Linked DNA regions of Homo sapiens. The protein of the gene in region 2 purifies or fractionates together with the protein of the main gene of each other region. This does not show direct contact. Each region holds a gene or a part of one and is shown on either strand. Other genes may lie near its edges.

What was found.
Region 1: the proteins of EML2 (region 2) and TTC38 fractionate together in Homo sapiens (co-fractionation; one large-scale study listed by BioGRID). This does not show direct contact.
Region 3: the proteins of EML2 (region 2) and DHTKD1 fractionate together in Homo sapiens (co-fractionation; one large-scale study listed by BioGRID). This does not show direct contact.

Annotation. Positions count from the first base shown.
Region 1 is NC_000022.11:46,281,347-46,285,069, reverse strand, and holds part of TTC38 (tetratricopeptide repeat protein 38), read right to left. Parts: exon of another isoform or gene 3,472-3,723; coding exon 3,352-3,471; intron 3,100-3,351; coding exon of another isoform or gene 3,058-3,099; exon of another isoform or gene 2,921-3,057; intron 1,098-2,920; coding exon 1,038-1,097; intron 1-1,037.
Region 2 is NC_000019.10:45,615,322-45,619,044, forward strand, and holds part of EML2 (echinoderm microtubule-associated protein-like 2), read right to left. Parts: intron 2,377-3,723; coding exon 2,309-2,376; intron 1,533-2,308; coding exon 1,444-1,532; intron 1,238-1,443; coding exon 1,140-1,237; intron 569-1,139; coding exon 481-568; intron 1-480. UniProt on the Homo sapiens protein: Tubulin binding protein that inhibits microtubule nucleation and growth, resulting in shorter microtubules.
Region 3 is NC_000010.11:12,092,954-12,096,453, reverse strand, and holds part of DHTKD1 (2-oxoadipate dehydrogenase complex component E1), read right to left. Parts: intron 2,382-3,500; coding exon 2,183-2,381; intron 1-2,182. UniProt on the Homo sapiens protein: 2-oxoadipate dehydrogenase (E1a) component of the 2-oxoadipate dehydrogenase complex (OADHC). Participates in the first step, rate limiting for the overall conversion of 2-oxoadipate (alpha-ketoadipate) to glutaryl-CoA and CO(2) catalyzed by the whole OADHC.

The DNA.
Region 1 (3,723 bases), on a different chromosome or scaffold from region 2:
AACCCGCTTCCAACCGGGGCTTTGGTTCCCCAGTGTAGAAAGCACAGCAGCACCTGTGCCGCCACCACTGAAGAAACAGTTGCTGTGGAAGCATTCTCTCTCCTAGTGGAAAGTTAATATAGGTATTGCTCATACTAACTGCTGCAAGCTTTTTCATGTATTTCTTTCTAGCCTTTTTCTTTTTTTTTTTTTTTTTTTTTTGAGATGGGGTCTCACTCTGTCACCCAGGCTGGAGTGCAGTGGCACAATCTCGGCTCACTGTAACCTCCGCGTCCCAGGTTCAAGCGATTCTCATGCCTCAGGCTCAGGACTACAGGGAGGCGCCACCATGCCCGGCTAATTTTTGTATTTTTAGTAGAGATGGGGTTTTACCATGTTGCCCAGGCTGCTCTCAAACTCTTGACCTCAAGTTATTTGCCTGCCTTGGCCTCTCAAAGTGCTGGGATTACAGGCATGAGCCACTGTGCCCAGCTGCCTTTTTCTTTTCTGCATATGTTTCCTCTCCTGTACATTTAGCTGGGTTCTGTGCTGTCTTCCAGACACTGTATCATCACATTCTCATGTCATGACAAGGCCCTCATGTTCTCAGCATTTCTCACTTTATGGACATTCAGGGAGCTTCTAGCTTTTGTGCACGATAAGGAGCACTGCAAGTGACAGTCTTGTACATGGAACCCTGTGGCGGAATCACTGGGGTCAAGGGTGTCCTGAGCAGCTGCCCCATAGCCTGGCTCCCGTTGGAAGATCTCATGGCCCAGGCAGGTACACCCTGCGGAGTTGGGGCTTGGCTCTCCACTCCAGCCACAGGCACTCGCTCTGAATGGTCTCTGCAAGTTATACACCACAGATGTGATTTCCAGGCCTCCACAGTGAAAAAATCCCTAAAAAGGTTGAAGCCTAGAGTGCTCTTTGGAAATGTTAATGCTCCATTGCATCAGGGCTCCAACGGATGTGAATACATAGCAAAAGCTAGAAAAATCTTTCTCCCTCTAGACATCTTTATAGGATAAGACAGTGCAAACAGATGGTCACCTTACCTTCTCAATCAGATATAAAGCCCAGTGCCAATAGTTATGACAAGCCAACATATCAGAGTCCTGGAGAAAAAAAAAAAAAGAGAATTTATGAAAAGTCTGAAGGCCTATGGGAAAAAAACAAATGTTGTTTTGTGCTAATGCAGAAACCATCATCTTTTTTTTTTTTTTTTTTTTTTTTTTTGAGACTAAGTCTGGCTCTGTTGCTCAGGCTGGAGTGTAGTGACACGATCTTGGCTCACTGCAACCTCTGCCTCCCGGGTTCAAGCAATTCTCCTGCCTCAGTCTCCTGAGTAGCTGGGATTACAAGTGTGCACCACCACACCCGGCTAATTTTTGTATCTTTGGTAGAGACAGGGTTTCACCATGTTGGCCAGGGTGGTCTCGAACTTCTGACCTCAGGTGATCCGCCCGCCTCAGCCTCCCAAAGTGCTGGGATTACAGGCATGAGCCACCGCGCCTAGCCACAGAAACCATCATCTTTGAGTGCAGGAAACAATATTCTGCACTAGGTGCCTCCAGGCCACATAATCTTCTTCCATTCCGAAGGGCGGTGAAGAAATTATGCTGCATTTACCAAGGAGGAAACTGAGGCTAGGGGAGGTTCCCAACCTACTCGCCTGAGCTGGGGAGCAGCAGCCCCAGGACCGGTGCAGAGGAAGTTACTTCAGCAACTCCAGCTTTGCCTTCCTCACATGTGAAGTTGAGAAAAGGATTAACAGAACCACTCCACAGGGAGGTGCGAGGCCCATGGGTGCCTAAACAGCTCAGGGCACTTGGATAAAACTGCAAGGATCAGCCGGGCACAGTGGCTCATGCCTGTAATCCCAGTACTTTGGGAGGCCGAGGCAGAAGGATCAACTGAGCCCAAGAGTCCAAGACCCACCTGGGCAACATAGGGAAGAGACCCTGTCTCTCTAAAAAAAAAAAATTTTTTTAATTAGCCAGGTGTGGTGGCACGCACCAGTAGTCCCTGCTATTTGGGAGGCCGAGGTGGAAGGATCGCTTGAGCCCAGGCGGTCGAGGCTGCGGTGAGCCCTGATTGTGCCACTGCACTCCACCTTGGGCGACAGAGAGAGAACTTGTCTCAAAAAAAAACAAAAACAAAAACCTGCAGAGATCAACAGGCCCAGGGCCACACTCCAACAGGTGCTGGCAAAGCCCCGAGAGCCAGGGGAGTGGGTGGTATGTGGGTGGCTACCTTAGGCTGCCCTCAGTATGAAGCAGTGTTAAAGTAGGACCTGTGCTGGGCTCAGAGCTGGCCCCTGCTAGGGTATTTCCAAGCTCAGGAGACTGGACTCGTGATCCTCAACAAGCTAGAGTGCCCAGCACTCAGAAACCTCAAACAAACCTCAGTGTCCCTGAGAAGGGAACCTGACCACTGCCCCCTTGACAGAGCCGAATCTGGAGGCCCGAGGATCCTCCGCAGCAAGGCTCAGACTGCATGGCCCCTGCTTGGGAGCCAAGTGCACACCCTTCCCTGATTTCTTGCTGCCCCAAATACAAAGCAGGTATTCAGTAAACGCTGAGTGAGCGACGCTGTGTCCCTGTCCCAGGGGAGGCCCCATCTCCCTTGAGCCCAATAGGCTCACCTGATGCAGCCCCGTCTGTCCAGAGGGCCCACCTCCACCATGGTGCTAGCCTTTCCTTCCCTGAGGCCTCTGCAGGCGTTTCTGCCTCTGCCTGGACACCACCTTGCCTCCCCTGGAAAGAGGGACTGACAAGGCCTCCTGCACAGCCCATGTCCGCCTTGTACCTGGGCTCTAGGACACCAAAGTAAGCAGCTCTCCTCTCCCTCACAGGCCACTGTAGGCCTTGGAGGCCTTGCTCAAGCTAGTGACGGGCTAGGATGCCCTCCATCTTCCCCCTCTGTGTGGCACACACCTGCTCATCCTTCAGTAGCCAACTCAGAGGTTGCCCCCTCCAGGATGCCTTCCCTAGCCACTGTCCCCCCAAGCCCAGTTGAGTTTAATGCTTCCTCTGCGTTTCCACATCCCACAGAGGGTCCCCGTCATGGTGCAGCTCATGTGCTTTGAAGAGGCTGCTCGCTCCTCCTGACCAGGCCCTGTAAGGACAGAGAAGTCTGGGCTGGACCCTCAGTGGAGTCCCTAGGGCAAGGTATGGGCCTGGGGTGGGGACTGGAATCTTGATTGCATTCTGCTCAGCAGCCAAACACCTGAGGCAGGTGCAGGTGGAGGAGGAGAGGGAACCCCGAGAATTAAGCCATGCCCTGTAACTCTTGTCCATAAAGCCTTGGCCTGACTCAAGGGGATGCACTGAATTTCCCAGGGAGGTGACCCATTGACAAGCATCATACCTTCCAGAAGGTCTCTGAGTGCTGCATGAATTCCAACCCATCCTTGATCTCTGCTTTCATCTCGTGGATGTGAGCGACGGTGTGCACCGACCATGCGTCTGTCGGGTTAATAGATAAAGCCTACGCAGGGTGCGGGGAAGAGGATTCCAGATAAAGCAGATCAGTCAGGCTGCCGGGGCAGGCGACGGCAGGTCTCTAAGGGGCAAGAGGGGCCTGGGCTGAACGGGGTGGAGCAAGTGGGGGGGCGGGGCTCTGACTCAAAACACTGACAATTAGCACCACTTCCTGCCTGCCCGGGCACACCAGCTCATGGGTCTCACTGCCCAGTTCACAGATGAGGAAGCTGAGTCTTAGGGAGGCTATGCGACTTCA
Region 2 (3,723 bases):
AAGAGGGAAACTCCCATCTCAAAAAAAAAAAAATACAAATACAAATATTAGCCGGGCATGGTGGTGTGCTCCTGTAATCCCAGCTACTCAGGAGGCTGAGGCAGAAGAATCACTTGAACCTGGGAGGCGGAGCTTGCAGTGAGCCGAGATCGCGCCACTGCACTCCAGCCTGGGGGACAGAGCAAGACTCCGTCTCAAAATAATAATAATAATAATAATAATAATAATAATAATTAAAAATTTAAAAATGTAAAAAAAGAAACCTGCATCCTACCCATCCGACCGGAAAGGGGAGGAGTTGACTAAAAGTGGGGTATACCAGGGAGAAAATGAGAAGCCAGCGGTCCCTAAATTCCAAATCAGAACCAGCCTTGAATACCAAGGGAGCGAGGCTTGAAGCCCCTCCCTCCCCTCCCAGAACTCAGGGAAGTCTGCAAATGAGACGGAGGAAGTAATGTCTCTGGGTCCCGGAGAACTCACAGTACAGAATCTCATAGTCCCCGGAGTTGGTGACAAAGCAGCTGCTGTCCTGGGCCCAATCCAGGTGGGTGATAAAACTGGAATGGCCCTGCGGGGGAGGGAAGGGATGGTGTTAGAGCTGCAGAGGGCGGAACCAAGGAGAGGGGGACAGGATTAAATCAGGAAAGTGGAAGTCAAATACAGAGGTAGGGCGAGAACACAAGGGGACTAAAGGAAGGATACACAGGCCTTTGGAGTATGGGGGCAGGGCCAGAATACTGTGGGCGGGGCCAGACTGTGATGGGCAGGGCTAGACAAAAAGCACTTAGAACACAATGGGAGTTTAGAACAGGTGGGCAGGGCTAGACACGGAGGAGCTGGCTTTGAATGTTGAGGGGCGGGGCTACACAGAGGGGCGGTCTCGGAACGTGAGGGGCGGTCTCGGAACGTGAGGGGCGGGGCTACACAGATGGGCTTAGCACGTGGGGGCGGGGCTACACAAAGGGGCGGGCTTAGAACACACGAGGTGGTGAATGTGTGGACGTGGCCAAGACTCCTTGCTCTGATCAGGGCAGAATCAGTTGAGTGTTGAAGCTGCGCTCCCTTGAGGTAGAAAATTGGTTAATTTTGCACCCCCTGGGCGGGGTGGCGGCGCGGGCTGGGGGCCACTGCCCACTCACCGAGCACTTGCCCAGGCGGCTGACCTTGCGGCCGCCCTGGTCCACCGTGTACACGTACACCAAGTTGTCGTGGGAGCCCACGGCCAGGTACGCCCCGTCTGGGGGAGGGGGAGGGGGGCTATGAGGAGGCACCCAGGCTCCATCCCCTCCTCGCCCAGACTCAGCCCCCTCAACAGTCCCCAGCTCCATCCCCACTGCATCCCTCCTAGGCCTCGCTTCGCAGGCTCCACCCCTCCCCCTGCCAAGAGCTCTGAGCCTCTGTCCCCTGGCCCTGCCGCTTGGGTGTCCCAGGCCTGCCGCTTACCTGGGGAGAAGCTGACCACTGAGATCTGTTCATTGCCGTCTGTGTGGATAGCCACCAGGTCATGGGTCTCCGTGTCCAGCAGCAGCCATCTTGAAGGAGAGGGCGTGGTGGGGGGAGGAGGGGTGAGCTGATCTGACAGAGAGAGGCCGCAATCTGTGGGGTCTAAGGGAGGGATCAGAGGGACCCCAGAAGTGACCTGGGCTGGGCACGGTGGCTCAGGCCTATAATCCCAGCACGCTGGGAGGCCGAGGCGGGTGGATCACTTGAGGTCAAGAGTTCGAAATCAGCCTGGTCAACATAGCAAAACCCCGTCTCTACTAAAAATACAAAAATTAGCCAGGCGTGGTGGCACGTGCCTGTAATCCCAGCTACTTAGGAGGCTGAGGCACGAGAATTGCTTGAACCCGGGAGGCAGAGGTTGCAGTGAGCTGAGATCGCGCCACCGGACTCCAGTCTGGGCGACAGAGCAAGACTCTGTCCCCCCAAAAAACAAAACAAAACAAGGCCAGGTACAGTGGCGGTGGCTCACGCCTGTAATCCTAGCACTTTGAGAGGCTGAGGCAGGTGAATCACTTGAGGTCAGGAGTTCGAGACCAGCCTGGCCAACATGGTGAAACCCCGTCTCTACTAAAAATAAAAAAAAATTAGCCAGGCATAGTGGTGGGCGCCTGTAATCCCAGCTACTCGGGAGGCTGAGGCAGGCAAATCGCTTGAACCTGGGAGGCAGAGGCTGCAGTGAGCCAGAGGAATATTGAGGGATCAGGGCTCGGTAAATAGTGGGATTTGGGAAAGTAGGAAAGAGGGAAGAAGGGCCAGTTCCCCAGGGAGCAGAGAAGGCCTCCCGAAATGCTCTCCTCAGCTTTACCTGCCAGTCACTGTACCCACAGCCAGGACAGAGCCACTGGGGTGGAAGCCGGCTGAGCGGGCAGGGTCCTGAGAAGGGAGAGAGAAGAGGCAGGGCTCAGAGCTGGGGTCCCATGTCCATCTGGACATTCTCTTGCCTCAGGGCCAAGTCTAATCTTTGCATGAGGGCTCTCCCCTCCCTCTGCTGCCCTTTGGGACACCCCCACCCCAGACACCATGGCAGCCATTCCTCTTTACATTTCTGTAGCATGTTAACCTGAACAGAAACCATTCCTCCTGTCACTCCTGTCCCGGGATCCCTCCTTACTCCTCTTCTAAATTCCCACAGCTTTATTCATCCAAGACGACTTCTTTAGATAATTTCCTAGATGTGGGAATGCTGGGACAAAGGGCATCTAGAATTTTAAGACTTTATTTTTGTTTTTTATTTTTTAAATTTTTATTTATTTTTTTGAGATGGAGTTTCACTCTGTTGCCCAGGCTGGAGTGCAGTGGCACGGTCTCAGCTCACTACAACCTCCGCCTCCTGGGTTCAAGCGATTCTCCTGGCTCAGCCTCCCAAGTAGCTGACATTACAGGCGCCCACCACCACGCCCGGCTAATTTTTGTTTTTTTTTTTTCATTTTTTGTAAAGATGGGGTTTTGCCATGTTGCCCAGGCTGGTCTCAAACTCCTGGATTCACACAATCTACCTGCCTCAGCCTCCCAAGTGCTGGGATTACAGGTGTCAGCCACCACACCCAGCTGAAATTTTTATTCTGTTTACATTTTAATTAATTGTGAATAGCCATGTGTGGCCAGTGGTTACCCTATGGGACAGTGTAGCTCTACACTTGACTGTTGCAGCGGTCACACCTTCCTTGAACTCAGCGGCTCCTGACTCCCCCCTCCTCATGGCGGCACCCCTGACAGGATGGTTCGGTGTCGTCCTGGGCTCCCTTCCAGTCAAGAACCTACTCCTCCAACCCTTCTGAGAGAGCTTCTAAGCACCCAGTTCCCTAGATGAAACCCCCACCCTGCTTAAAAAGACCTTGTTTGGGCCAGGCTTGGTGGCTGGCATCTGTAATCCCAGCACTTTGAGAGGCCGAGGCGGGCGGATCACGAGGTCAGGAGTTCGAGACCAGCCTGACCAACATGGTGAAACCCTGTCTCTATTAAAGATACATAAATTAGCTGGACATGGTGGTGTGCACCTGTAATCCCAGCTACTCGGGAGGCTGAGGCAGAAGAATCACTTGAACCCGGGAGGCGGAGGTTGCAGTGAGCCGAGATCGTGCCATTGCCCTCCAGCCTGGGTGACAGAGCGAGACTCCACCTCGAAGAAAAAAAAAAAAAGACCTTGTTTGGTTTCAGTCTAATGTGCTGAGCCCTGACACAGGGGGAAAGGTAGTTCTGTTAGAATGGTGCTTTTCCAGT
Region 3 (3,500 bases), on a different chromosome or scaffold from region 2:
TGATCATACCACTGCACTACAGCCTGGGCGACAGAGCAAGACCGTGTCTCAAAAAAATAAATAAAATAAAATAGAACCCTGAGGTTCACTGAGTCATTCAGCTGCTAAATTCAGAGCTAAACAGAACACAATTAGTTCTTCTGAGAGCAGTCCTCTTTCTGGTACCAAGGATCAGAAACGCTCATAAAACGTGTATTCCTCTGCTTTAATTTATATCTATAAGGAAATAAACTTGGAGGAGGGGAATCTATTTTATTTTCTAGTATCTAGAAAAGGAAGTTCCAAAGTAACAAATTCCCCCTCCGTCACATTAACCATCTGAATCAGCACCATGGGACAGAAATGAAATGCAAGCCATGAGTAATTTAAAATTTTCTGGCAGTCACGTTAGAAAAGATAAAAAGAAACAGGTGAAATTAATTTCTTTTCTTCTTGTTTTTTCTTTGAGACCGAGTCTCGCTCTGTCGCCCAGGCTGGAATGCAGTGGCACAATCTCAGCTCACTGCAACCTCCGCCTCCCCAGTTCAAGCGATTCTGTTGCCTCAGCCTCCCGAGTAGCTGGGACTACAGGCACGCGCCACAACGCCAGCTAATTTTTCTTTTTCTTTTCTTTTCTTTTCTTTTTTTTTTTTTTTTTTTTTGAGACGGAGTCTCGCTATGCCACCCAGGCTGGAGTGCAGTGGTGCGATCTGGGCTCACTGCAAGCTCCGCCTCCCGGGTTCACGCCATTCTCCTGCCTCAGCCTCCCGAGTAGCTGGGACTACAGGCGCCCGCCACCACGCCCGGCTAATTTTTTGTATTTTTAGTAGAGACGCGGTTTCACCGTGTTAGTCAGGATGGTCTCGATCTCCTGACCTCGTGATCCGCCCGCCTCGGCCTCCCAAAGTGCTGGGATTACAGGCGTGAGCCACCGCGCCTGGCCAAATTTTTCTATTTTTAGTAGAGATGGGGTTTCACCATGTTGGCCAGGCCGGTCTCAAACTCCTGACCTCAAGTGATCCACCCACCTTGGCCTCCCAAAGTGCTGGGATTACAGGCATAAGCCACCATGCCCGGCATTTCAATAACATATTTTATTTAAGTCAATATACTCATTATATTGTCATTTCCATATCTAATAAATTTAAAAATATTATTTTGGGTTTATATTTTACATGCTAAGTGTTTGAAATATGGTGTGTGTATTATCCTTACAGCACATTAATCAGGACTGGCCACTTTTCAAGTACTCAATAGCCACTGATGGCTAGTGGCTTCCATCTTGGACAGCATGGTTCTGAACATTCATTAGAATCTTCTGAGTTACCTCTCACCAAGGTGCCAGGCAGGTCTGCAGCTATGGTTTGTAGAAATGAATCACTGAGGTTCTATTTCTGGTCCTGCCGACACTGCAGTAAATAGATTTGGGCGAGGTTTGCTTAATTCCCCCTGCTTCAATCTTCCCATCTGCTGAGTTTTCTATTGCCCTTTTTCTATTCAATGAGGAACCATGTCAAGTGTGAAGAGTATGGGAGGCCAGGCACGGTGGCTCATGCCTGTAATCCTAGCACTTTGGGAGGCTAAGGCAGGTGGATCACTTGAGACCGGGAGTTTGAGACCAGCCTAGCCAACATGGCGAAACCCCTGTCTGTACTAAAAATACAAAGATTAGCCAGGCGTGGTGATGCATACCTGTAATCCCAGCTACTCAGGAAGCTGAGGCACAAGAATTGCAATTGCTTGAACCCAGGAGGCAGAGGTTGCAGTGAGCCAAGACTGTGCCACCTGCACTCCAGCCCAGAACTGTGTCAGCTTTAGCTCTTAAAGTTTCATGTCCTGCCTGGGCATGGTGGCTCATGCCTGTAATCCCAGCACTTTGGGAGGGCGAGGCAGGCAGATCACCTGAGGTCAGGAGTTTGACATCAGCCTGGCCAACATGGCAAAACTCCATCTCTACTAAAAAGTATGAAAACTAGCCAGGCACGGTGGCACACGCCTGTAATCCCAGCTACTCGGGAGGTTGAGGCAAGAGGATCACTTGAGGCAGGAGGATCATTTGAACCCGGGAGGTGGAGATGGCAGTGAGCCAAGATCGTGCTACTGCATTCCAGACTGGGTGACAAAGCAAGACTCCATCTCAAAAGAATAATAATAGTAATTTTAATTTTTAGGGGGCATATCACACAAGGGTTTATAATTGTACCTGATGATTTTGTACATGATGGGGTTGGTGTAGAATGGCTCATCCAGCTCATTGTGGCCCCACTGCCTGTAGCACAACAGATCAATAATCACATCCTTGCGGAACTGGCGTTGGTATTCAAAAGCCAGTCGTGTGGCACGGACCACTTCCTCTGGGCTGTCTCCATTGACATGGATGATGGCACAGCCCACAAGCTTCCCTGAAGGACAGAAGACCAAGCCGAAACAGGACAGTTAACCCAGAATGACACTGGCCCTCTCTAAGCCCTACTTCCTGCATCAAAAGACAGCCCAATCCTCACAGGTAGATATTGGTTTGGTTAACAACCCCAGCTTTGGAGACCAGCTGGCAAGTTCCAACTCTGGGACTTATTGTGTGACCTCGGTAAAGCTACAAATCTCAACCTACTTATCTATAAATCGGGAATGGGGCTCCTACCTCTTAGTGATGTTGCAAAGGTTCGATGAGTGAATGCACAAACAATTGTAATGCCTAACAGTGCCTGGTACATAGTAGTTAATATTTATTTTGTTACTGTTATTATCATTACTCTCTTTCTCCCTGAGATAAAAGGGTCATTAAAGGATGTACCTTAGAAAAAGATAAATTTGCTCCAAAGAATCTTCATCAGACTAATCATAAAGGATTCACATAGACAAGCCCAAGAGGCATCCAGTCCAGGCTGTTTGTATAAAAGGAGAATAGTTGCTACCATCAAACAGCCTTGTAAACTGTGAAACTGGGAATGGGTAATAACAGCACTGTCTTTATCTTAAGATGACCAATTTCAGCCTGGCACAGTGGTTCACGCCTGTAATCTCAGCAGTTTGGAAGGCTGAAGAGGGATCACACAAGACCAGAGGTTCAAGACCAGCCTGGGCAACACAGTGACTCAATCTCTACAAAAATTATTTTAAAAATTAGCTGTGGCCAGGTGCAGTGGCTCACGCCTATAATCCCAGCACTCTGGGAGGCTGAGGCAGGTGAATTACCTGAGGTCAGGAGTTTGAGACCAGCCTGACCAACATGGTGAAACCCCGTCTCTACTAAAAACACAAAATTTAGCTGGGTGTGGTGGTGGACACCTGTAGTCCCAGCTACTCGGGAGGCTGAGGCAGGAGAATTGCTTGAACCCGGGAGGTGCAAGTTGTGGTGAACCGAGATGGCGCCATTGCACTGCAGCGTGGGCAACAAGAGCGAAACTCCATCTCAAAAAAAAAAAAAAATTAGCTGTGCATGGTGGCATGTGTCTGTAAATCGCAGCTACTAAGGAGGCTGAGGAGGGAGGATCTCTTGAGCCAGGGATGTCAAGGCTGCA